2 separate regions of the Homo sapiens genome follow, and region 1 is linked to region 2. Evidence: fine-mapped expression QTL. A gene starts in region 2. The other region holds a variant in brackets. All regions are shown on one strand. Distances are between the middles of the regions.

Evidence for each region. PIP is the estimated chance that this variant, and not a neighbour inherited with it, causes the effect. A credible set is the group of variants that fine-mapping cannot tell apart.
Region 1: its variant is the best candidate, but not a certain one, in a credible set for the expression of OLA1 in prefrontal cortex (BrainSeq, PIP 0.58).

The regions. Positions count from the first base shown.
Region 1 is chr2:174,118,265-174,121,185 of GRCh38, reverse strand. All of the region lies in intron 7 of OLA1 (Obg like ATPase 1), which reads left to right. Among named protein-coding and RNA genes, the nearest start is that of LINC01960, 94 kb to the right of the region's middle. RefSeq lists an enhancer at 1-370. The variant GTT/T (reference allele first, on the strand shown) is at 1,228.
Region 2 is chr2:174,247,001-174,249,921 of GRCh38, reverse strand. OLA1 (Obg like ATPase 1) reads left to right here and starts at 1,390. Exons shown (of 11, transcript NM_013341.5): 1 at 1,390-1,470. RefSeq lists a silencer at 1,085-1,604.

The DNA.
Region 1 (2,921 bases), 130 kb after region 2:
ACATAGCCTTTGTATTAAAGTGCAGAATAAATTTTTATTATGAGGGATATGAACACTAGGTTTTCATCATTTATAACACTGAAAGCAGATGTAAATAGTTAAAATCCATTTTAACTACTAAATCCTTTTAATTGTGTTAGCATCTTGTTTTTTGGTAATGTTTACATCTAAGCTCCATTTGCATTATTAGTTGCTTCTTTAGCAAAAGAAAAAGTTTTTGTTTTTTAAGATTAACATGTAATGTTACTATAGCAAATAAGACTGATGCAGGAAACAGTAATAAATACTTTCATGGGTCTTTTAGATCTGGAAAACTATTTTAAACCATCAAGAAAGAGGAGAGGAGAGGTTTGTGACTTTGGCCACAAGAGGAGACTAAAACTGTTGTTATTTTAGCAGGTCACCATTTCAGAAGTATTGAACACTTTAGTTACTGAAGTTCACCCTAAATGTAAATGGTAATGTGTTATTTTTCAACCCTAGAAAAGAAGGAAGCATTTTGAAAGATAAGTCTATTGTGTTATTGAGTAGCTATATTGACATTTTGTGAGATGCAAAAACTGGAATGGCTGCAAGCATTAGTCATTGAATTAGTCATTTCATTGATTTATGACTAAAGACCTAGCCCCTGAAGAGAAGCTGACATGGCAGCCGGGTTGGTTGCAGTTGTGTTATGATCAAATGACAGTAATCAAGATGTTGTAAGTGAATCCACAAACCATTTTTTATTATTACAAATTGCTGTTTCTTGAATGAGTAAAACTATATAGAAGTTTTTGTTGTTTTTGGTGAGCACAAGCATTTTTGAACACTTGAGGTTTTCATTTTCTAAACACGATCAGCTGTTACTTATAACTAAGATTATACTATAGACGGTATTAATTTTCATTTGAGATTGCTTACTGAGTCATGGTGTCAAGCAGGTACAGGACATTAGAACTGTCAAACTACTGCTTAATTAGGGGTTTAAATTTCAATCTTTGCACCCTTGCTGCTCTGTTAGTAGAATATGCCATCCAATTATGAAATCAGTAGAATAAACTAATTTTACATATTTTTTACACCTACCAGCCATCAATTATGTTTCATTTTTGTGATCCTACCTTTCTTGAAACTGTTAATAAAGGATAATTATATTTTATTATTTATTATACTACATATTTATGTTCAACTGGAAAATATAACTAAACTTTTAGATACGCAGACTGTGTGTGTGTGTGTGTGTGT[GTT/T]TGTGTGTGTGTGTGTTATACACACATTTTCATATGCCCTGGTGGGCTTGTAGTCATTTAACATTACCTTTTGGGTAATATTATATGAGTCAATTAATCTGAGTGATGAAATTGATTCAAGATAGGTAGACAAATACTTGGAAAGTCTTTTAAGTTGTTTAATAATGAAGGGCAATGTGTCAAGTTCACTAAATGCATTTTAAATAGAAAAATGTTTTATTATTCTTATTATACCATGATTCAGTTCCTTCCCCTTTCCCATCTTTATGTGTTCATTAGTTTTCCACATAATTTGTACATAACAACTAAAAATAGTTTGGGGATACTACACATTATGTGCTTGGTTTGGGGGGAATCATGGAATAAATATATTTTCTTGATTTCTTGAGCTGCCTATAAAAATTACAGCTACTATATCTCAGTAAGTGTATATGTAGGTGGAAGTGTGTATATTTTTGACACACAATTTTCTATTTCTGTATGTGTGCATATATATACAAACACATATATGCATATAAATATAAAAAACTATTTCTATAGAACTATTGTAGGAGGTCATCAGTTTCTGACAAGATCATTTAAGCTAGAAATATAACACAGACATTCTGCTTTGGAAAGATTACTTTGTATTATGATAAAGCTTATTGTTAACAGTATTATTTATACTATGAATTAGGATTTCAAATAATTTTTTGGTGAATGAATTTTGTGGAATTGATTATTTCTTTCTCTGATCAGAATCTTTAGAATTAAAAAGAATATGATAAAGAAAAATGATCTTTTTATTACAGGAGATGGAAGGCTGAAAGAAGTGGGGATGGGGAAAAACCTTTGCCCATTCAGGAATCTTTTTTTTTTTTCTTTTTTGGTCAAATGTACTTTTGCATTTGAATATATTTTTACATGTAATAATATTTGTGAATTCCTATTTGGTTTTCATTAAATGGGTTTTGAATATTCTTTCGACAATTTCATATTCTTATCGAGAGATAACAATACAGTAGTGCACTTCTGGTTTCTTATGAAAGAGATAATTATATACGAAAGCACTTTTTTTATATGAACATAATGCTACTGACCCTATGCATATTAGGAATTTCCCTTGGCCTGTTTGTATTTTTTGCAATACTATTTATAGCCAATGATTTCTATTTGCCAGATGGTTCACTGAATTCAAGAAAGTGATACATTTGGGAGTGCCCGTTGTAATCTTCATTAGCACCATCTGCTGACTTACTGATTTGTGAGTGATGTAATTTATCAAATATGTCAGGACTTTCATCTTTTTCAAACTAGCTGAAGAATTTCACTCCACATAAACAGGAAAAGTTATATAAAATTTTTTCTAGCTTCCACAGATTAAAAGGTTTATAAGTACTTTTTAAAAAATTAAGTGTTCCTTAGGATTCTGTCATGTGAAATTAAAATATATATTCTCTATACATGTACACACATCTATGTTCTAGGAAATGAAATATAAAGTTTGGTTTATAGCTATCCAGTGTTCTTCAAATTACAAATGATTCATCTACACAAAGAATTTCTTTGCTTCCCTACCCTACTCACTTTGTTGAATAATTCAAAAACAATCCCCTTAAAAATCTGCACTAGAGATTAAGGATCTCTGAGTCATATTTTGTTACCAAAACACTGAGTTGGGATGAGCTACACTTTTACAACCGGAGTTGATAT
Region 2 (2,921 bases):
ACAGGTATGTGCCACTACACCCAGCTAATTTTTGTTTTTTGGTAGAGATGGGGTCTCACCACGTTGTCCAGGCTGTTCTCCAACTCCTAGGCTCAACTGATCCCCCTATCTTGGCCTCCCAAAGTGCTGGGATTACGGCCAGATTTTCAGTTAGATTGTGGTTTGAAATATGCTGCTGCCATTTACTAGTTGTGTGACTTCATCCAAATTAATCAACCTTTCTGATATTGTTTCCTCACTTGTAAAATGGGGATGGCGACCTATTTACATCCTTTAATATTAATAGCAACTAATCCCTTTAAAAGGAGCTTCTAGTGTCACAATTTTTGGACAGGTATCATATTCATTACAACAAATACCTGAATGACATCTGAAGGCCAGGACCTAAATGAAAGAATTCCTTCTCCAGTGGCGCTCATGGTATTGATATGATGTGGGTGAGATGGGATGAAATCCTAATATTAACAACAGCGACTACTCACAAGCCTTTTCTGTATGTGCTGAGTACTGTTGTTATGAGCTCAACACGCATTGTCTCATTTTATTCTCACACGAATAACCTCATAAGGTGGTTTTAATAGCCTCATTTTATCCAGAACGAAATTGAAGTCCAGAGAAGTTAATTTGTCTAGGGTCATACAGTCAATGAGTGGCGAAATCCAGATTGGAAATTCCCAAATTTCAAAGGCCCCTGCTCTCAACTACCAAGAGGAAAAGGGGGGAAATTGGCTCAATTAAACGCATTCTGTGATCCAGTACCTGTGTGCGACGCTTTAACTATAAGGCGAGGAAGAAATCCCTAGACCAAAGTTTCCCTTAGCCCCTTTTCCTTCAAGAACTTTTAGTTAACAGCTTCTCTCCGCACAGACTGAGCGAATAAAGTTATAGAAAAGGGAGATGGGCTAGCGGCCACGCGGTCCTCGGGGCTGGTGTGGCTGTTTGCCTGACTTCAGACGCCCCGGATCTCCCGGAGGGAAGTCAGGGCCCAAGGCACTCCGCAGTCCAGCTGGGAAAGCTTGGGGCTGTAGGCCCGCGAGTGAACGTGAGCAGGTAACCCAGGCCGCGCAGCCAGACGGAAGCGGAGACCTAGAACCGAGAAGCCCACGTGCCGAAGCGGAAGACTAGAGCTCCCGGGAACGGCCTAGCCAGCGCCTTCCCCTCTCCAGCTCCCTGCCGCCGCGCGGCTCCTCCCACCCTGGGCTCCTCCCGCCCTACTCCCGCCTCCCCGGCCGGTTAGGCCAATGGGCGGGACGCGCGGGCAAGGCGGGGAGGGGCGGGGCCCATGGTCTGCGCGCAGGTGCCGCTCGGCGCCCGGCCCGCCCGTTCCGCCGCTGTCGCCGCCGTCGTGCGTGCCGCTCGGCGGAGGGGACGGGCCTGCGTTCTCTCCTCCTTCCTCCCCGCCTCCAGCTGCCGGCAGGACCTTTCTCTCGCTGCCGCTGGGACCCCGTGTCATCGCCCAGGCCGAGCACGGTGAGGCCCTCAGGGAGCCCGGGGGCGCGATCTCCGCCAGGTCTTCGGCGCCTGGGCTCATTGCCCTGAGGCTGGCGCGGGGCCCGGGCCCAGTGGCCAAGATGGGGCCAGGGCAGCGGGTGGCTTGGGGATGTGTGGATGAATGAGGCGCTGTCGGACTAGGCCGCGCGTCGGGAGATCGGCCTACGCCTCACGCGGGAAAGCCCTGGGGAAAGCCTTCTCCCGACGCCAGGACGCCCGGTGGCCCAGTCCGGAGAGGAGGATGGGGGGTGGGGCCCACTTTGGGTGGGCTGCCGGCCACCTCTCTGTAGGCCAGAGGACCCGACAGGCGCTGTTCCTGTATCTGTTCTTTGGAGGCCTGGGAGTTGGCCAGGAACAGGTGTCAGGACGCTGAGAAGGGAAATTCCTGGCCCTCGGGGTCAGGGATCAGAGGCTGGAATACTACTGCAAGGGCAGGGCCCCAGCGTGGTCCTAGGAGGTACAACTCTCAGCCAGAAGACTGGGACAGTTTTAGTTCCCAGCTTCTGAGACGTGAGCTTAGCGGTCTTTGTGATTTCACTTTGCAGTCCAAGGGTGGGAGTAATTCTGCACGCATGATTTGGAGACAGAACTAGTAAGGGACAGAGAAAGTTTCGACTTGTAAATAAAAAGGTTCCGTCGATTAATTTACCATTAGAAATAGTAACCATAATGTAGATTTTGGAGGTTGCTTATGAGGACTGATGAGCCGTACCTTCAGTGCCAAAGGTGGGAGGGACTTGGTGGAAGGACCCCAGTACCTGGTGGGTGTTCATCTATGTGAAAAATGGGGGTTGTGGGCGAATGGGAAAGATAAGATTCCAGATTATAGAGGAATGGTTTGGTGTGAAGGGTGACTTGGCTGCTGGTGGTTCCACAATGGAATTTTCTTTGACTGTCTTCTGTGTACTTGCTTCCAAATGCTTTCTTTCATATAACCATATATCAGGTTAAGATATAAAGTGTTTTGTGAGCAGTCTGGATGGAAGATTGGTAGCTAAACTCTAAGTTTATCTTTGATTCCTGGTGCCACAAATATTTTATTTATTTATTTATTTATTTAAGACAGAGCCTAGCTTTGTCGCTCAGGCAGAGCCCAGTGGCGTGATCTTGGCGCACCGCAACCTTCGCCTCCCGAGTTCAAGCAGTTCTCGAGCCTCAGCCTCCCGAGTAGCTGGAATTACAGGCTGCGCGCCTGATGGCCGGCTAATTTTTTTGTATTTGTTTTTCTTTTTAGTAGAGACGGGGTTTCTCCGTGTTGGCCAGGCTGGTCTCGACTCCTGGTCTCAAGCAGTCTGCCCACCTCGGCCTCCCCCTCCCAAAGTGCTGGGATTACAGGCCTGAGCCACCGTGCCCGGCCCAACAAATATTGATTTTAGATCAGTCTTTCTGGGACTTCTCAGCAATGACTCTTTTGACAACGGATATGTTTA